6 linked regions of the Homo sapiens genome follow. The protein of the gene in region 1 purifies or fractionates together with the protein of each later gene. This does not show direct contact. Each region holds a gene or a part of one and is shown in the gene's direction. Other genes may lie near its edges.

Region 1 (2,639 bases):
CAATGATGGGAGACCACCGGGATGGGCAGGTGAGTAGAGCCCCGATGCCAAGCCCTGGGGCCACTGTACTGCTGTGCAGGCATAGCGGACCATTTCTAGCCAGGCGGCCGCTTGATCCCAGAGAGGTGGCAACCAAGTCAGCACGTGTGGCGGGTATGCAAGTGTGGGTTCTGGCCAGCGACTAGAAGTACAAATATTTAGTCGGACGTGGTGGCTCATGCCTGTAATCCCAGCACTTTGGGAAGCTGAGGTGGGTGGATCACAAGGTCAGGAGTTCAAGACCAGCCTGGCCGACATGGTGAAACCCTGTCTCTACTAAAAATACAAAAAATTAGCCAGGCATGGTGGCGAGTGCCTGTAGTCCCAGCTACTCGGGAGGCTGAGGCAGGAGAATCGCTTGAACCCGGGAGGCGGAGGTTGCAGTGAGTCGAGGTCGCACCATTGCACTCCAGCCTGGGCAACAAGAGCAAGACTCCGTCTCAAAAAAAAAAAAAAAAAAAAAAAGCGCAAATATTTGATTGTTTTGTAATGCTCAAGTTTCTGTCATTTTCAAATATGTTGGGCTTGTTCTTCATTGTATCCGGTAGAAACCTCATGTGTCTCTTCATTGTCCACTTGCTCAGGGAGCCTTTGGGTCTTAGTGCCTGTGGGGTCCCCCAAGAACCCAAATGGTGGTTGTCGTTTAGCCCACATGTGCCAGGGTCGGGGGGATGGGGGAGCCCGGGCTTCCCCATGTTTCAAGTCCGTGCTTGGTGGGCACGGGGGGCTGAAGACCACAAGAATGGTCCCTGAGTCTCTGTGGTGCCATGCGGGTGCCCCGTGCGTGGTGGCAGGGTGTGAGTTCTGAGAAAGCAGCAGCCTGGTGGAGAGGTGGGAGGTGGGCGGCAGAGTAATGGCCTGTAACAGCAGGCAGCACCCGCCTGCTTCCTGGCTGCTGGCTGCTCCGTGCAGAGTTGGTTGGCCAGGGAGGCCGGAATTGTGGCCCTGCCAGAGCACAGGGGGGCTGACCCACCCGAGGGCCCTCCTGTTATCGGAAAGGAGGCGGCGCCCAACTTCTCAGGGAAGACAGGGTTTGGTGACGTCTTAGTGGATCTTGAGCAGAGCTGTTGAGGGCAGTAATGCCAGGGTGCCCTGGCTCCTGGGGCAGCTCAGGTGGGGCAGTGATGCAGCTGTAGGGGTGCGAGGAGGGGAGCCAGGGAGCAGAGGGTCAGTGAAGCAGGGCCCAGCAGGGCTGAGACTGCACCCTTCAGTCCTCTCTCAGCTCCGCCCCACCTGCCACCCTGGGGCCTGCAGTGGACAGGCCTTCCGGAAGGTGGGCCTATGTGGGTGACATGGTCAGTGTCACCCTGTTCCTCTCCTGCCTTCCAGCACTATGGAGATGACCGCCATGGCCACGGAGGACCCCCAGAGCGCCACGGCCGGGACTCCCGTGATGGCTGGGGGGGCTACGGCTCCGACAAGAGGCTGAGTGAAGGCCGGGGGCTGCCCCCTCCCCCCAGGTTAGTGGGTGAGCCCCAGCCGGGTGGGGAGCATCTGTCCTAACCTGGGAAAAGGTTGGTGCCTGGCCAGGCACGTCCCCAAGGTTTGATTCAGCTAGGGGAGCTTTAGGATGGGCTACCAGGGGTCCTGCCATTTGAAACCCCTGACTCAGAAAGTCCAGGTTCTCAAGAAGAAAGCATAGAACAGGCTTTCAGGGATGGAGCTGTCCAGGTCGCCCAGAATGGCCCATCCCCATTCTTGAGCTGGGGGTCGCCTGCAGTTGTGAATGTCTCGATCATGGGCTGCGTACACACTGGGAGAGACAGCGCTGAAGCTCTTAGTCCTGCCCCGTCCGTGGTAGAGCAGCCTCGCCCCTGCCTCCACGTTGCCTCTTGACACGTGTCTTCCTCGGGTTTTTTCTCTGACCCCCAGTTGGTCTGGGGTGGATCTTCTCAACCCTATCCTGCCTATTAGAATCACTTAGGAGGACCCTCCACCCAGGACTCAGGGCTGAGGACACTGGGCCAGGTCCTCCACAGGTGTCCAAAGCCACCTTCACCAGCACTGCAGTGGGGGTGCTGTTCTGAGCCTTGTCAGCATTGGTGGGGGGCAGGGCTTGTCTGGGAGGACTCTGGGTGCCTCTCTAGTTTCTTTGGCCAGCTGCAGTCACCCCTGCCTGTTTGTCCTGTTGCCGTCTGGGCTGGCCGTGAGGAGGCTGGTGGCAGGACTGCTTTGCGGCTGCTGCCCTGCTTTCCTCTGTGAGCCGAGTGTCCTGTCTTGTCTCCAGCCCTGGCCCAGGGCTGCCTCGGACCCTGCCCAGCGCCACAGGGTGGGTTTTGGCCCCCTGTGCTCCCCCGTTCCATCCCTCCCTCCGCGCTGAGAGGCACTTCCAGCTCTGCCAGGGACTTTGACTCGGTGCTGTGCCGAGTGTCCCAGGACACCCGAAGCTTCTCCTGAATCTCTGGGCAGCACAGACGGTGGCAGTGCTCTGATCAGTTGGTGTGAAGTGTTCTCTCCTGTGAGACTTCATTAGCATTCCTGTCCTGTCGCTTGCTGGGTGTTATGGTAAATACCTCGGGAGTGTAAACGGGAAACTCACCCATGGTGAGCAGCGGCTGGGCGCCATCGGGTCACCGAGGGCAGGTTCCACACGGGAGCTT
Region 2 (3,500 bases), about 36 Mb from region 1:
ACCGCCCTGTACACACAGGGGTTGTCATCTAATCAGGAAGGGAATCTGAGTGCAGCTGGGGAAACTTAACTCTTTGACAACCAGTTCCCGTTTCCATCAGCTGCTCAAGTTCCTGGTGAAACCAATGCCACTGTGTCCTGTGAGGCACTAACCTGGCCCGCCCTGCTGTCTGTCCTCCAGTTCAGTTTTCTTTCCACTGGATAAGTGGCTTTCACCTTCACTGTGCATCTGAGCATTTGGAGGAATTATTATAAAGGTCCTTTCGCTCAGACCTCCTAGTCAAGAGTCTAAGTGGTCGAGCCTATGAATCTAAATTTTTACATGCACCCAGAAGCCCAATCAGGTCTGAGAACACTGCACTTCTCAACAGAGCAGAAGATAAGCAGCAATTTATTCATCTATTTCTACAGAAGCTTCTGTTTATAAAGCACTGGCTACATGCTTTAGTAAGAGATAAAAATATACACAATCTCTAATATCACAAGCTCTCGAAAACAACATCTACCCAGAGTAGAGGTAAACATTGTTTAAAAAGTGTTGGGTGGCAGTGGTTCATGAGGCAGCGTCTAGATGAAATGCAAATGTACAGATCATGACGGTCAGCCTTTAGAGAAAGGAGAGCGCCTCATGGGAGGGATGGTCAGGAAAGGCTTTCTTGGAGGCGTGACTGGCTCCTTGAATATTGAGAATATTGAGAAGGGTAAGAGCAACAGTAGGAGAGTCCTAGGCCCATGAAAGGAATTAGGAGCCTATGGGGCACCTGGGCATTGGTTCCTGGGTGGCAGGTGTGGATCAGGGTCAGATCCCTGTATAGCTATTGGAAACAGAAGTCCGGTTCCCAAATTGATAGAATTACCACAGAGGGCGGTAGGAATATATGGTGGTGGTGATTAACCTTTTTGTATTCTAAAAACTAGTTTGAGCCTGGGTAACATGGCGAAACCCTGTCTACGAAAAATATAAAAATCACCCTGGCATGGTGGCATATCCCTGTAGTCCCAGCTGTTCAGGAGGCTGCGGTGGGAGGATGGCTTAAGCGCAGGAGAACAGAAGTTGCAGTGAGCCGAGATCATGCCTCCGTACTCCAGCCTGGGTGACAAAGCGAGACCTTGTCTCAAAAAAAAAAATTAATTTGAAACTGCTGAGGATATGGACCCTATCCCTAGCAAATACACATCCCCACCAAAGACATGTGTTGACAATTTCTGAGGATACCCCTGAAGCCCCATCCTTGGATCCCACCAGATAAAGAACCCCAGTTCCTCTCTGAGGTCATACAGGCCAATTTGCAATACTGCACATCCTCCCTACTCAAAGGGAGAGAGGTTGAGGGGTGTGCTGGTTCCTTTTGAAACTGCCCCCATGATGTGTTCACTGTGTACTCCTGGTCAGCACTTGGGGAAGTTCCCTCTGCCTGCTTCTTTCTTAGGACTTCTAAAACATCAGCCAGGCCGGGCGTGGTGGCTCACGCCTGTAATCCCAGCAGTTTGGGAGGCCGAGGCAGGTGGATCACCTGAGGTCGGGAGTTCGAGACCAGCCTGGCCAACATGGAGAAACCCTATCTCTACTAAAAAATACAAAATTAGTCAGGTGTGGTGGTGCATGCCTGTAATCCCAGCTACTCAGGAAGCTGAGGCAAGAGAATCACTTGAACCCGGGAGGCGGAGGTTGCGGTGAGCCAAGATCGCACCATTGCACTCCAGCCTGGGCAAAAAGAGTGAAACTCCGTCTCAAGAAAACAAAACAAAATAAAAACATCAGCCAACTGTGGGCATTTTCCTTCACAGATAACTGCGACCTCCACTTCAAGGTGGCCCGAGATCGGAGTAGTGGCTATCCGCTCACAATTGAGGGCTTTGCATACCTGTGGTCAGGAGCCCGTGCCAGCTATGGGGTCAGAAGGGGCCGTGTATGCTTCGAGATGAAGGTGAGTAGGAGCAAGAGAAGGGGAAGGGACAGAGAAGTCCATCCATTGTAATATCCTGATACCAGCCACCTTGGTCAGAGCTGCAACTGCAAAAGAGATTGGATTGTGCAATACCATGTCCAAGCAGACAAAACTGTGATGAACTCAAGACAACTACATCATTGCTAAATATCATATCAGAAAAGCAGGCCAACCATGCATTGCTTCATCAAGCAGATATTTCCTTGGTGAGATTTGACCCAGGTATTATGTAGTCAACCAGTGTAGTGATGACATGTTTGTAGAACTGAGAAAAGAAGTTGTTTGGAAGAAAAGTGATCTAGAAAGAATAGACTCAGATGTCACTTATTAAAGGGAGGCCAGAGGGAGAACAGGGCAAAGAACTGCCAGCTTAGGCCAGCCTCTGCTGTCATCTCTCCACAGTTCCATGTCAAGTTATGTTTATGAAAATAATAGATGCTCATGTTTAACAAAAGTTCAGACAGCACAGAAAAGTACAGGATAAAACAGGTTATTCTCGCCAGGTGTGGTGGCTTTTGCCTGTAATCCCAGCACTTTTGGGAGGCCAAGGCAGGTGGATCACAAGGTCAGGAGTTCAATACCAAACTGGCCAAGATGGTGAAACCCTGTCTACTAAAAATACAAAAAAATTAGCCGGGCATGGTGGCGGGTGCCTGCAATCCTAGCTATTCAGGAGGCTGAGGCAGAGAATTGCTTGAACCCAAGAGGCAGAGGTTGCAGTGAGCCGAGATCACGCCACTGCACTCCAGCCTGGGTGACAGAGTGAGACTCTGTCTCAAAAAAAAAAAACAAAAAAACAAAAACAAAAAAAACAAAACAGGTTATTCTCATGTCCTCTCAGTTCCCATCCTACCATCCTACTCCCTGGAGGGAACTTCTGTGTTAACAATTTCTTACCTGTGGTTTGTGTATCCAAACTTACTGATGATAGCTAATAAGTATAGAGCTCTTTGCATGCACAAGATACAGCACCAAGCTCTTTACATGGATTATCTCCATTAATCCTCACAGTACCATCTGGAAACAGGTACTGTTAGCCCCAGTTTTTAGAGGTAGAAGCTGAAACACAGAGGGTTATATTTTATTGACCACGACACCATTGATGTAAGTTGTGCATTATTTTATGTACCTCTCATAGAGAAACACTGCAACAAAATAAACTACGCAGTGTTTTCTTTTTTTGTTTGTTTGTTTTTTTGTTTTTGAGATGGAGTTTCACTCTTGTTGTCCAGGCTGGAGTGCAGTGGCGCGATCTCGGCTCACTGCAACCTCTGCCTCCCGGGTTCAAGCAATTATCCTGCCTCAGCCTCCCCAGTAGCTGGGATTACAGGCATGTGCCACCCTGCCCGGCTAATTTTTGTATTTTTAGTAGAGATGGGGTTTCTCCATGTTGATCAGGCTGGGCTTGAACTCCTGAGCTCAGGTGATCTGCCTGCCTTGGCCTCCCAAAGTGCTGGGATTACAGGCGTGAGCTGCCGCACCCAGCATACGCAGTGCTTTCTCATCACATTTATTGTAAAATGGATCCTGATTTCAGAGATTTTAAAATGTG
Region 3 (3,500 bases), 340 kb from region 1:
GAACTCCTGGTACCGTCTTTGGGAAAGTGGGGAAGAGGCTTCCCCTCCCGCCCCACACACACACAGAGTCTCAGACTGGTTACAGGCCTCGGGATTCGTTTATCAGTTTAAGCGAATCCTCTAAGCAGGCTCCGCCAGGTCATAGACATACCCTGTAGTCAGAAACATTTTGCTGTTTGCCTGCCCCATCTCAGGTGACTCTGTGGGCTCCACCCACCCGGGATTAGCACCAGTCGGTGTGAGCAGGGGGCACACAGCGCAGAAAGCCAAGAGCCAGGGAGTGTTTCTGCTGGACGGGATGCAGGCGGCCCCAGTGGGGCTGGGGATTAGCCCATCCTCTGAGGACTTCCAGGTCGCCAAACACGTTGTGTGTTTAATTTTAAAAAGCCACGTTCACTCTTGCACAGGCACAAGGATGCAGCGTGAAGTCAGCAGTAGCAGAATTTCTAGGGAGCACAGTAGAGAAACATTTACACTTTTCACTTCCTTCACAGTTGGACCAGAAAGTGCCCTCAGCGCTGTGATCCGCTGATTCTGGGCCTGGCATTGTAACTCCAGGCTTCCCTGCCCGCTGGACACGCTGAGCCAGTCAGAAGCTGCCTGCAGCCTTTCTCACCTCCGAGTTCACGGTTGTCAGGTCCCTTCACGACATCTCCCAGGAAAACACTCCCTGCCTCACGTTCATGTCCACTGTACACATCGCCAGAGACTCCAAAGATCTGCCAAAAGCCTTTTAAAATTTCTTTTCAAATTCTACAACACCTTTTTCATCATGTGGTATAGGAAAGACATATACAAATTACTAGCAACTCCATATTCCATTATCTCAAGATAAATGCATTTGGTCTTAGGATATTTAGTTACAAAAAAGTCATGCCTACATGTTGAAAATATTTACACAAAATGGAAATCCTAGAAAGTAACAAGCAGGAGCCACCCTCCAGCTAAGAGGTTCCCGGGTAACCTCCGTCAGTAGTTTGAATTCTCTCTCCCGACTTATTTTCCTGGGCATTCCTCAACACACATACACACCACACATACACACACACACACACCACACACACGGGACTGGATTGGCTTTAACAGAAATGGAATCGCACTTCCGTGTCCCACAAGCTGCTCTCTTCTCTGATCCATGTATTGTGGGCATGTCAGAGGCCTACCTCCCTCTCGGTGGTAATAGCTGTGCTGTACTTTTTTTCCCCCATATTTTCTATTGTAAATTATTTCATTCCTTGGCCAATGATGAGCAACCAGGTTATTTCCTGTCCTCTGCCGGCACTAAGGCTTCTGCAGGGCACAGGTGTTTCTTGTTGTTTGGAGACAGGTTTTTGCTCTGTCACCCAGGCTGGAGTGCAGTGGTGTGATCTCAGCTCACTACAACTCCCAGGCTCAAGCAGTCCTCCTGTCTCAGCCTTCTGAGTAGCTGGGAGTGCAGGCACATGCAGAGGAGACGTGTGGAGTACATGATCTGGTGTGGGATTGCTGGGCATCCGTCTGGGCCAAGTGTGGCACTGGTTTTGATTACTCTGTTTTGTTTTGGTTTTTGATAGGAGAAAGAGCCCCAGAAAAATGAGTCCAGCAATGCCTCTGAAGAGGAAGCCTGTGAGAAAAAAGACCCCGCCACACAGCAAGCCTTTGTATTTGGGCAGAACTTGAGGGACAGAGTTAAGGTATGTGAGCTGTTGAACCAGCACATTGACTTTTTATGCCTTCCCCAGGTTCAACAGCAGGCAAGTAGGTAGATTTTCCTTTTAACAGGGGAGGGGAGCGTGGGACAAAGAAGGTGTTAGCGAGGCAGCCCCATGGCTCACGGCACAGTCTGCTGCTGGTGTGCGTGTGCTGGGCCCTGGCACTTCCCCACCAGCAGCCCAGGCTTCGGAGCCCTCACCTGCAGTGACTTCTCAAGTCAGGGTCCCTGGTTCTCATGGTAGCGGGGACAGGGAAGGTGACTGAACCTGAGGCCTCAGGCTTTCATAGCAGAGAAGAAAGACAGCACGGTCCAGTGTTCTCAGCTCTGCCCAGAGGTTTCTGTTCCCGTATTTCAGGGTTTCTCTGTTTCAGCACTAGCAGCATTACGGCTGGACCATTCTTAGTTTCTGAGGAGTCGCCCTGGGCACTGCAGGGTGCTGAGCAGCATCACTGGCCTCCACCCACCCAATGCTCCTGACATCTGACAACCACAAATGTCCCCAGACGTGGCCAGTATTCCCTGTGGAGTAGAATCGCCCCCATTAAGAACTGTCACCTTATTTTTTTTTAAGTGGGGCAGGGTGGGGTGACAACACTGTCTTCTCTCCTGAAAGGGAGCAAAGCGTCTGCCACCTCTTGGCTGCCCTCCAGACATGTGGTCCTAGTTTGGAGATTGTGTGGTGGGGAAGGGATGGCAGTGGTTGGAAACAGTGGCCCTGGACCATGCACTGGGACTCTAGGAAGACCAGGGTCAGCCAGCACCACCTTTCCCAGCCACAGACATGGAATGTGCTACGGCATCTCTAGCAGCTCCACTGGCAAGAAGCTTCTTTCAAAGCTCGAGAGGCGGTATCGGTGGCTGTGTCTAGAGACTTTTGTGGTTGTCACAACTGGGAGGTACTTCTGGAGGTCAGGGATGCCACTCCGCCCCTTGCAGTGCCCAGGATAGCCACACCACAGGGAATGTTCTGGGCCCAGTGTCAACATGTCAGTAGTGTCGACGGGGAGGGCCCTGAAATAAACAAAAACCTCTCTAGCATGCAGAAAGCACCGGCTTGTGTTTTCTGCTTTCCTTTCTGTTACTCACCGTCCAACAGAAGCCCAAGTCGAGAAACGTGGAAAGTTGATGTTGCTGTTGCCATGGCTTTAGGCAAAATAATGAGTCCCTCAGGGGCTGTTCCCTCCAAGGAGGGAGGGCAAGAGGCGGGGAAGGGCTTGGCCTGTGGAGTTCAGGCCCTGTGGAATCTCTGCCTTGAGTCTGGGGAGACAGCTGCTTTGAATTTGGTGGGGTTGGCTTCTTGCAGAAGTCAGAGGCTTACGTGCACTTCGCAGTCTCAGTCAAATCCCAGCCTCTCCTTCCAGGGCAAACTTGAGCCATGGATTCTTTTTTTTTCTTTGGACACGAAGTCTTGCTGTGTCGCCCAGGCTGGAGTGCAGTGGCATGATCTCTGCTCACTGCAACCTCCACCTCCTGGGTTCAAGCGATTCTCCTGCCTCAGCCTCCCAAATATCTGGGATTACAGGCGCCCACTGCCACATCCAGCTAATTTTTTGTATTTTTAGTAGAGGTGGGGATTTCTCCATGTTGGCCAGGCTGGTCTCGAATTCCTGACCTCAAGTGATTCCCCGCCGCCTCAGCCTCCCAAAGTGCTGGTATTACAGGCACGAGCCACCGCGCCCAGCCAGAGCCATGGTTTCTTAACCCTCTGAGCCTCTGCTTCCTTGTTGGTCAAACAGGGTCCCTAACATCCCCCTCCCAGGCCTCGTGAGGATTAAAGCAGATCGTGCATTTGACAGACTCAGCATAG
Region 4 (3,500 bases), on another chromosome or scaffold:
AGGTCGTGGAGATCATTCAGGCCACCATCATCAGGCAGAACCAGGCTCTGCGGCTCAGGGCCCGCAAGGAGTGCTGGGACCGGGACGGCAAGGAGAGGGTGACAGGTGGGGTCACCAAGGGGCGATGATGGTGGGTGGGCAGGAGGGGTCCCCACTGCAGGGGAAGCAGGGGAAGGTTGAGGAAAGCCTCCTGTAGCCCCAGAGAGGCGCTTTCCTGGTATCTTTTGAAAGCTGTTGAGGGCCACCCACTGCTCTTCCTTCCCCACCCCCGCTTCATGCTGTTTCCACTTGGGCTGGAAAATGTGACCATGACCATGCGGATGTGGCTTTTCCTTCCCTCACCTTCACCATGAGCTGTGGGCAGTGGCCATGACTTACCTGATTCTGGATCAACAAAGAAGATGTTCAAATACAATTGACAAATGTAGGCCAATAGGTACAGTGGCTCACACCTGTCATCCCAGCACTTTGCCAAGGTGGGTGAATCGTCTGAGCCCAGGAGCTTAAGACCAGCCTGAGCAACACAGTGAGACCCCATCTCTACAGAGAATTTAAAAATTAGCCTGGCCTTGGACACACACCTGTGGTCCCAGCTACTCAGAAGGCTGAAGGGGGAGAATTTCTTGAGCCCAGGATGTGGAGGCTGCAGTGAGCTGTGACTGCACCACTGCACTCCATCCTGGGCCACAGAGGTACTACCCCGAGGTGCTACCATTCCCACTTTTTTTTTTTTTTTGAGACGGAGTCTTGCTTTCTTGCTGTTGCCCAGGTTGGAGTGCAGTGGCGCGATCTCGGCTCACTGCAAGCTCCGCCTCCTGGGTTCACACCATTCTCCTGCCTCAGCCTCCTGAGTAGCTGGGACTACAGGCGCCCACCACCATGCCCAGCTAATTTTTTTTTTTTTTGTATTTTTTTTTTTTTTTTTTTTAGTAGAGACAGGGTTTCACCATGTTAGCCAGGGTGGTCTTGATCTCCTGACCTCGTGATCCACCAGGTTCGGCCTCCCAAAGTGCTGGGATTACAGGCGTGAACCACCGCACCCGGCCATTCCCACTTTCTATATATCAAAACTGGGATGCAGAATGCAGGTTGCTTGCCCTGGGGTGTGGCCAGGCAGGGCGAGGCTGGGACCTGCATCCAGGCACTCTGGCTTCTCCAGTAAACCAAAGGACATCCACAACTCTAACAGAGGCAGTTCTGCTGCCTGTTTTAGCAGAAGGACAAAAGTTGGTCTTTGGAGCTTAGAGAAGGCAGAACAGGCTGTTGGCATAGCAGCAACTTGGGCATCTTAGGAGGCCAAGGTGGGCGGATCACTTGAGGCCAGGAGTTCCAGACTAGCTTGGGCAACATGGTGAAACACCATCTCTACAAAAAATACAAATATTAGCCGGGCGTGGTGGCACGTGCCTGTAATCCCAGCTACTCAGGAGGCTGAGGCATGAGAATCACTTGAATCCAGGAGGCTGAGGTTGCAGTGAGCTGAGATCACAGCCTGGGCAACAGAGGGAGACTCCGTCTCAAAAAAAAAAAAAAAAAAAAAAAAACTTTTAAAATTCAACTGGGGTGGGGGTTTGGCCTCAAAAGAATGAATAAGAGGACCGCAGTCAGGAACTTGAGCCTGGGGTCAGTGCTATCTTTTTGCCTATGAAATCTGTCAATCCCCTGTGTCTAAGCTGTGGGGGAGGGGTAGGTGGGGAGCAGGCTGGGGGGCCCTTGTCCCTTACCCTCCACTCTTGGCCCAGGGGAAGAATGGCTGGTCACCACAGTAGGGGCGTACCTCCCAGCGGTGTTTGAGGAGGTTCTGGATTTGGTGGACGCCGTCATCCTTACGGAAAAGGTTGGTGCTCTGGGGGCTGTGGTTTAAGGGACCTGGGGCTAGGGAACCCTCCGAGTGGCAGAGAATGGTGGTAGAATGGCATGAGAGTAAAAGAGAAGCAATAATTTTAGGGTCACTTAAAAAAATTCAGAGATCAGATTGCCTGAGTATTCTGGATCATCTGAAGGGTTAAATAGTCTTTCTGGGGCTGGGCGCAATGACTCACATCTGTAATCTCAGCAATTTGGAAGGCTGAGGCAGGAGGATCACTTGAGGCCAGGAGTCTGAGACCAGCCTGGGCAACACAGTGAGAACTCATCGCTACAAAAAATTTAAAAATTAGCTGGGTGTAGTGGAGCATGCCTGTAATTCCAGTTACTCCAGAGGCGCTGAGGCAGGAGAATCGCTTGAACCCCAGAGGCAGAGGTTACAGTGAGCCATGATCATGCCACTGTGCTCCAGCCTGGGCAACAGAGCGAAACCCTGTCTCAAAAAAAAAAAAAAAAAACAAAGCCGGTCGGGTGCAGTGGCTCATGCCTGTAATCCTAGCATTTTGGGAGGCTGAGGTGGGAGGATCACCTGAGGTCAGGAGTTCAAGACAAACCTGGCCAACATGGCGAAACCCCATCTCTACTAAAAATACAAAAATTAGCTGGGCATGGTGTCACCCACCTGTAATCCCAGCTGTACTCAGGAGGCTGAGGCAGGAGAATCGCTTGAACCTAGGAGGCGGAAGTTGCAGTGAGCTGAGATCGCACCTTTGCACTCTAGCCTGGGCAACAAGAGAGAGACTCCGATTTAAAAAAAAAAAAAAACAATCCCTGGATTGGTAGAAATTGTCTCTGAGATCTGGGAGCATTGGGAGCATTTGGTGGCCAATGGGGCTCGCAGATCCCCTGAAGTTGGAGGCAGGTCACTCAAATACCCAACATGTTGCTCTGCAGACAGCCCTGCACCTCCGGGCTCGGCGGAACTTCCGGGACTTCAGGGGAGTGTCCCGCCGCACTGGGGAGGAGTGGCTGGTAACAGTGCAGGACACAGAGGCCCACGTGCCAGATGTCCACGAGGAGGTGCTGGGGGTTGTGCCCATCACCACCCTGGGCCCCCACAACTACTGCGTGATTCTCGACCCTGTCGGACCGGATGGCAAGAATCAGCTGGGGCAGAAGCGCGTGGTCAAGGTGAGGTCCCTACACCCCCACAGAGGACTGCCCTGGGAGATGTATGTCCTCTAGTGGCATGAGGCCCTCTGCCTTCTCTCCTCCAGACGCACGTTCTAGGAACACCTTCTGTGCCTTTGCATGCTTAGTTCTTACACACCTGAGACACTGGCCCATTTGATTCCTGGCAGCCTCTGACTTACCCCTCAGACCTGAAGTTAATTCCCCTTCTGGGAAGGCCTCCTGGCTACCCGCTGCCTGAGACTCTGAAACTCTGATACAGTCATGCGCCACTTAATGATGGGGATACATTCTGAGAAATAGTCCTTAGATGATTTTGTCTTTGTGCAAAAGAGTGCACTTATGCAAACCTAGATGGCACCTAGTCTAGATGGCGTAGCCTGCCCCTAGGCTGCCAACCTGTGCAGCATGTGACTGTCCTGAATACTGCAGGCAGCTGAACACAATGGCAAGTACTTGTGTATCTAGCCATAGAAAAGGTAAGGTAAAAATACAATATAAAA
Region 5 (3,500 bases), on another chromosome or scaffold:
TATTTTGAGACAGAGTCTCGCTCTGTCGCCCGGGCTGGAGGCAGTGGTGCGATCTCAGCTCACTGTAACCTCTGCCTCCCAGGTTCAAGTGATTCCCCTGCCTCAGCCTCCTGAGTAACTGGGACTACAGGCATCCACCACCACGCCTGGCTAATTTTTGTATTTATAGTAGAGACGGGATTTCACCGTGTTGGCCAGTATGGTCTCGATTTCCTGACCTTGTGATCCACCTGCCTTGGCCTCCCAAAGTGCTGGGATTACAGGCACCTGCCACCTTGCCTGGCTAGTTTTTGTATTTTTAATAGAGATGGGGTTTTACCATGTTGGCCAGGCTGATCTGGAACTCCTGACCTCAGGTGATCTGCCCACCTCAGCTTCCCAAAGTGCTGGGATTACAGGCGCCTGCCACCTTGCCTGGTTAGTTTTTGTATTTTTAATAGAGATGGGGTTTCACAGTGTTGGCCAGGCTGATCTGGAACTCCTGACCTCCAGTGATCTGCCCGCCTCGGCCTCGCAGATGTCCTTGCCTTTTGTTTCTTCTCTATACCTTGAAAGTCTGTGCTGTGTTAAGGGCGTCATGCTCAGGCTTACTGATTCTGAAGGGGTTATCAGTGGATGATTCCGGATGTTGTGGAATATCAAACAGATCGAAAAGTTTCTTTAATAATAGTGATGGCACCTTGTGTTTAGAGTTCGCAGTGGCATTTACCAGATGCTCTCTGGCCACCTTCATGTGAACCTCCCAGCTGACTCGGGCCTGCTTTATCTGCCATCAGATTGTAATGGCAGCTTTGTGGAGGCCGCCCTGTAGATTATGCGATTAATGACCACATTCATGTGAGCAATAGTGCTGGCTTAGTTTTTTTCCAGTTAGGTTGTTTGGAATGGTAGCTGCATACCTGAGGGCAGTGCAGCAATGCCTTAGTTACGAAGGCAGTTTGCATTCCACAGGTAGAGTCTTTCCTTATGGCCAGGGCACTGATCCCTCACATACCAGAAAGTATCATTCGTCCCTGCCCCAGACAGACTCCAGATGCGTCCCAGTGGTGGTTCTTGGGATAGTTTTGTAGGAATTTCTGCAGAATTTTAGTGTTCAGATGAGTATGCTCTGTCTGTGGACTGGAGACAGGCTTCAAAGAATTCTCAAATTATTCTGCACAATACATCATTTTTTGGTATCTCTGCAGTTCCAAAGGTAACTACTTGAGGGACAGTGGCCACCAAAGAGCACAAGTTTTGACATTTTGATGAAAAGCACACATAAAACAAATAAAAACCACCTTTCCTTAAGTTACCTATTGAATTGTGCTTATTCCCATAAATGCATGTTCATCTGTTTGCTTAATAAAACTTAAAGCACCATAGAGTCTTTCTTGTTTCCTAGAATAAGGTCTTTTTTCTTTTCCTTTCTTGTCTTTTTTTGTTGTTGTTGTTGTTGAGACGGAGTCTCGCTTTGTTGCCCAGGCTGGAAGTGCCCTGTGGTGTGATCTTGGCTCACTGCAGGCTGCGCCTCCCGAGTTCATGCCATTCTCCTGCCTCAGCCTCCCAAGTAGCTGGGACTACAGGCGCCCGCCGCCACACTTGGCTAATGTTTTGTATTTTTAGTAGAGACGGGGTTTCACTATGTTAGCCAGGATGGTCTTGATCTCCTGACCTTCGTGATCTGCCCGCCTCTGCCTCCCAAAGTGCTGGGATTACAGGCGTGAGCCACCGTGCCTGGCCGGTCTTTTTTATTTTCAATTAAAAAAAAATATATATATATATGTATTTTTAAACAGAGATGGGATTCCGCCATGTTTGCCAGGCTGGTCTCAAACCCCTGGCCTCAAGTGATCCTCCCATCTCGGGTTCCCAAAGTGCTAGGATTACAGGTGTGAGCTACCACACCTGGCCTATTTTCAATCCTAAAAAAATCATTTGCGTGTTTCTTGATTTTAGGCACTGAACTAGACGGAGATGAGAATATAGAAATAATAAAATGGGGCTGGGCGCTGTGGCTCACACCTGTAATCCCAGCACTATGGGAAGTAAAGGAGCAGATCACTTCAGGTCAGGAGTTCGAGACCAGCCTGGCCAACATGGTGAAACCCCATCTCTGCTGAAAATACAAAAATTAGTCGGGTATGGTGGCGTGCGCCTATAATCTCAGCTACTCGGGAGGCTGAGGCAGGAGAATCACTAGAACCCGGGAGGCAGAGGCTGCAGTGAGCCGAGATTGTGCCACTGCACTCCAGCCTTGGGTGACAGAGCAAGACTCTGTCTCAAAAAAAAAAAAAAAAAAAAATAGAAAAAATAAAATGATGTCTCAACTATCAAAGACCTCGCAAGAAGCCTTAAAAATGATAAATAAGGCTAGAGATTTTGCTGTACCTTTGGAAAGTGCATGTGTGGTGGTTTATAGTACATATTCTGTGGCCAGATAAAATTTATATGATTATTTTTCCTCCCAAGAATATGAGATGACAGAGGGGGAGGAGCGTGGATGGAGACTAGGAGCCTTGGGCTCTTGTCCAGCCTTTCCCTGACCAACCCTGAGGTCTGGGACAATCAGCACAGAACTCCAGGTCTCAGTTTTCATATTTGTAAAATGAAGGACTTAGAGGACCTTCACCTTTTGCAAATCTGATAGCAACTGTGACCCCTTCCCACGAAGGGGGACAGCTTCATAGGCGTGGACCCAGATTAAGAACTGGATTATTCCATCTCTAAGCTCCCTCTCACCTGTGATATTCTGTAATCCTATTTTCCTGGTCATCTTTGAGCTAATAATAATGATGACTTGTATTTATAGAAGATGCACATTCCAAAGCACTTTCACCTCTCATTCTTTTGTCCTCAAAACATTTCTGAGTGGTACAGGTGGCAATAGATATTCCTTCCTGTGATGAAGAAAGTGGGCCAGGCTTGGTCAGCACGTTGATGGAGCAAACAGCCAGAGGCCGTCCTGGGACCAGAACTGGGGCTCCTGGTTGCCATCCTGGGGCTTTTCCATTAGGTTTTGCTTCCTTGGTGGTTGTCATTATGAGTTATGTTTGGCAGTTCAAATATCCCAGAATGTGTCACTCGTAGAGGAAACTATTTGTTCATCTGCCGGAAAGGACTGTTTTTCTCTCTGAATTTGGATCACTAAACACCTTTTCTGTATGTGAAAAGGCTACTTATTTGTTTTTGTTATTTTTTCTTGCCACATTTTTCATAGGGACAGTTTGTAGGGCTTGAGTGTTTTGAGCAGACTTATTTAATGCTTATTGATGAAAGAGTACATTAAAATGACTACTTCTCAGTTGCTTAGCACTTGAGAAAGTTGTGAAATAAATGTTAAGTAAAAATTCCAAATGTCTCACTTGTCCTATCCAAGTATGTCCTCACAGATGAGATGCTTTCTGCAGTCTAGGAGGCCCCTCCCTGGGCCCAGAGCCGCTGGGTGGGTTTGAAAGTTGGGTGTGGATTGTGCCAGTGGCCAGGACTGTCCAACAGTGGCTGCTTGTGGCCTTCTGGCT
Region 6 (3,500 bases), on another chromosome or scaffold:
TGCCACTTAATGTCTGGTCCCTGGACCAGCAGTACTGGCATCACGTGTCTTAGATCCCACCCTAGTCTAATAAGATCCCTATATGATTTGTATGCACATTAGAAGTTTGAGAATACTGGCTTAGAGCACTCTTAAACTTAACTGCACATTGGAAACACCTGAGAGTTTTAAAATAATACTGATGCCTGGGTCTCACTCCAGATACTCCGATTTGATGGTTATTGGTGGTGAGGGGGGCATGGATCAGACATCAATAGTGTTCAGAGCTCCCTAGTTGATTCTGATGTGCAGCAGAGTCTGGGAACTACTGACTTAACATAGTGATGCCACACCTGGCCATGGCTCTGAATCACCTGGGAGGTGCTTACAGGTCCCATCTTGGCTGATCTTGATTCAGTGAGACCTGAAGATCCAAGTTTTTCAGGTTTGTGACTATCTGGCTATATTTATATCTATAGAATAAAGGAATAATGGTCAGGTTTTCTCCTTTGTAAGGAGTCCATGTTTTATAACCCCATGTTTGTGGCTTTACTTCATAAACTGCATCCCCAGACATGAGTCATGCTCTAAGATATGGACCCTTAGGCCTTTTTTTAGACCTTGTTTGAGCAGGTTTCCTGGAGGTAGAGCAGAGCGAAATCACAGTGTCTGTAAGGAGCCCCAGTTAACCCTCTACAGGGCAAGAAAGGGGACACTTGTGGCCAAAATTAGGCTTCTGAAGTGCCTAGTGAAGCATCCACTCTTTAGTACAGTACTCTGAGCATTAATTATGCTTCCTGGCTTCTTTCACACAGCTTCAGATGGTCTGTTGAAGCCTCTCCTGGCTCTAGGCTGAATATCTAGAGTAAAATAATTATTTCAATAAGTAGAAGGAGAATGGCTGGGGAAAAGCCGCTTTCATCTATGAGCTTCTGGAATGGAAAGACAGTGGTGTTAGGAGAAGACTGACTTTCAGGAGAGCTTTTTATGATTTGCATCACGACTGTGATAATGGGAGTGCAGAAAGACACTTCAGACCATTCATGAAAAGGGCTGCTTTTGATAAACATAGCTGTATTTTCTTATTCTTTATGCCTCTTGACTGTAAGCTCCTTGAGGACATGGGAAGATCATATTTATCTTTGTGGCCCCAATGGCTAGCACGAGCCCAGCACGTATAGATGCCCAGTGGGTCTTCACTGAACAAATGCGAGGGTACCCGCAATCCAGGTTGTTACCAAGCCACACTGGCTCAATTCATATAATTAGTTTGGCTCTCTGAAAAGCACCAAGTGAAAAGATAATTTCTCTTTTGTACTGTTAGTGGTCTGTCCTGCTGTCTATAAAACGGGAGCATTTAAATATAAAAAGAGTGGTCTGGTTCTTCAAGCCGAAGCCTCAGAATGTTCCTCTGCTTGCCTGAATTCCTTCTGCTTTAGGATAATATTGGATTTTTCTTTTCTGAATATTTTCCCCCCAACAGGGGAGTAGTCATTAAAAATCCATATCGTGCAGTTCTGTACTGGCAGCTAAAAGCTGATATTTGATGATCTCTGTAGGTGTCACAGGGCTCTGGTGATAAAGCAAGCCACAGAACCAGGGCCAACTTAGACACATTAGACACAGTAGACACAGTGCCTAGGGCCCACAATACTTTTAGAGGCCTCTGCAAAAGTTTTAATTTCTTTTAAAATCAGAAGAAAAAAATGAACTTTTAGGGTCAAAAGTTATATTTGTCTTTATATTGATGCAGTTGTAAAATATAATTTTTAATATTATCTGAAGGAGCAAGGAGCCTACAAAGGCAGAAGCACCTAGGGCTCATGAAAGTTATGACACAGCTCTGCACAGAACTGGTCCCTTGGGAGAGCCACACATAAACATGGCAGGACTGGTGGCAGCATCAGGGTGGTGACTGGTGCTATGCGGAGAGGAGTGAGCTTTCTTTTCTTTCCCTGTCAGTTCACAGGTATGACCCGGCAGGATGCTTTTCTAGCCCTGACTCAGAAAGCCCGGGGGAAGAGAGTGGGTGGAGACGTGACAAGTGATAAACTGAAAGACTGGCTGATTTCACGGCAGCGGTACTGGGGCACACCAATCCCCATTGTCCACTGCCCAGTCTGTGGCCCCACACCTGTGCCCCTGGAGGACTTGCCTGTGACCCTGCCCAACATCGCGTCTTTCACTGGCAAGGGAGGCCCCCCACTGGCCATGGCTTCAGAGTGGGTGAACTGCTCCTGCCCAAGGTAAGGAGCCACATCCCTGCAGTGGTGACTGTGCCTATGGCCCCATACCTGCTAGGGCTTCAGACAGCCTCCTCCCTCCTGGTGCTAACTCTGCTCCCTTTTTCCCTGACTTCCATGAGGCTGGAAAGAACACTGTGGGTCTTTGGGGCCCTTTAAGAGAAGGGTCTGGAATCTGTGGCCCTGCCTCTGCAATGGGCATCCTCCCTTCTCTGAGCTGTTGGAAGCAGCAGTGTCAGTTCAGATCTATCCCAGAAACATCTGATCCAACTGATGGAAAAGCTCTAAATTTTCCTTACAGCTTTGTAAAAAACCACTTTCCTCCATTTTGATATTCCAAAGAGCCACGTGGAGAGGGGAGAAAATGTTCTCTTCTCCACCTTGCAGTTTTCCAATATAGTGACTGTAACAACAGTGGAGATTTTATCATGAGTAGCAGAGTAGTTGCTAAGAGAGCAAGTGTGCTCAGGGCTGCATTCTTTAATATGCTGAAGCACCATGGTTCCTTTCTCCTCATTTTGGAAGTGGGATTATGTTTTTCTGTCTATTCACTGGCATGTCTCAAGCATGATTTTTAATGATGCTGTCCATATCAGCTAATTAAACAAATAGCAGATACCAAGTTCCAGTATTTTCCTTCTTCTGCGGAGAAGCCATTTTTCTCTGCCTTATAGATCATGATGAGGATATTATAAAATAATTTTGTATTCTGCCAGTATAGAGCTGAGTTACTAGGTTGACAATTAGGTAACCACGTAGTGTAATTGGAAGTCTTGAGCTGGGTGTCAAATCAGTGATGGATTCAAGTCCTGGCTCTGCCTCCTAACTAACTGTCTAGCCTTGGGAAAGTCATTTACCTTCTCTGAGCGTGAAATCCCTCATCAGGAACAAAAATAACCCCATTGAAGGGCTTTTCAGAAGACTAGAATTAACACATGTGATCCTGCACAGTGATACCTTCTAGGCCTTCAATAAATAGAAACTTTATGGCCATCCAGCCAGGGACTTGCCAGCCATCCTCCCAGGTCCTCACTGAGGCAGTTTTGAAATTCAAGGTGGAACTTGGAGGGAGGTATATAGGAAGGCCCAGACCATTTTAGGGTAGAAATGTTGGCTCCAGGAGGAAAATAGCACACCCTCTTTGTTGATAAGCGCTGACAAAGGGCTTCCCTACCAGAGATGTTGGTGGCCTGCATACAGCACAGCAGTTGTGGCCTTATTGATGAGGATAAGGTTTCCTGCTTGGCTGCAGAATTACTGGAGGGCAGAACCTAGGCC

What was found.
Region 2: the proteins of SAFB2 (region 1) and HNRNPUL1 fractionate together in Homo sapiens (co-fractionation; one large-scale study listed by BioGRID). This does not show direct contact.
Region 3: the proteins of SAFB2 (region 1) and RANBP3 fractionate together in Homo sapiens (co-fractionation; one large-scale study listed by BioGRID). This does not show direct contact.
Region 4: the proteins of SAFB2 (region 1) and MVP purify together in Homo sapiens (co-immunoprecipitation; one large-scale study listed by IntAct). This does not show direct contact.
Region 5: the proteins of SAFB2 (region 1) and PACSIN2 fractionate together in Homo sapiens (co-fractionation; one large-scale study listed by BioGRID). This does not show direct contact.
Region 6: the proteins of SAFB2 (region 1) and LARS2 purify together in Homo sapiens (co-immunoprecipitation; one large-scale study listed by IntAct). This does not show direct contact.

Annotation. Positions count from the first base shown.
Region 1 is NC_000019.10:5,589,138-5,591,776, reverse strand, and holds part of SAFB2 (scaffold attachment factor B2), read left to right. Parts: coding exon 1-29; intron 30-1,368; coding exon 1,369-1,499; intron 1,500-2,639. UniProt on the Homo sapiens protein: Binds to scaffold/matrix attachment region (S/MAR) DNA. Can function as an estrogen receptor corepressor and can also inhibit cell proliferation.
Region 2 is NC_000019.10:41,274,372-41,277,871, forward strand, and holds part of HNRNPUL1 (heterogeneous nuclear ribonucleoprotein U-like protein 1), read left to right. Parts: intron 1-1,787; coding exon 1,788-1,927; intron 1,928-3,500.
Region 3 is NC_000019.10:5,926,141-5,929,640, reverse strand, and holds part of RANBP3 (ran-binding protein 3), read left to right. Parts: intron 1-1,553; coding exon 1,554-1,673; intron 1,674-3,500. UniProt on the Homo sapiens protein: Acts as a cofactor for XPO1/CRM1-mediated nuclear export, perhaps as export complex scaffolding protein. Bound to XPO1/CRM1, stabilizes the XPO1/CRM1-cargo interaction. In the absence of Ran-bound GTP prevents binding of XPO1/CRM1 to the nuclear pore complex.
Region 4 is NC_000016.10:29,833,962-29,837,461, forward strand, and holds part of MVP (major vault protein), read left to right. Parts: coding exon 1-105; intron 106-1,742; coding exon 1,743-1,837; intron 1,838-2,760; coding exon 2,761-2,997; intron 2,998-3,500. UniProt on the Homo sapiens protein: Required for normal vault structure. Vaults are multi-subunit structures that may act as scaffolds for proteins involved in signal transduction. Vaults may also play a role in nucleo-cytoplasmic transport.
Region 5 is NC_000022.11:43,008,650-43,012,149, reverse strand, and holds part of PACSIN2 (protein kinase C and casein kinase substrate in neurons protein 2), read left to right. Parts: intron 1-3,500.
Region 6 is NC_000003.12:45,489,576-45,493,075, forward strand, and holds part of LARS2 (leucine--tRNA ligase, mitochondrial), read left to right. Parts: intron 1-1,941; coding exon 1,942-2,225; intron 2,226-3,500.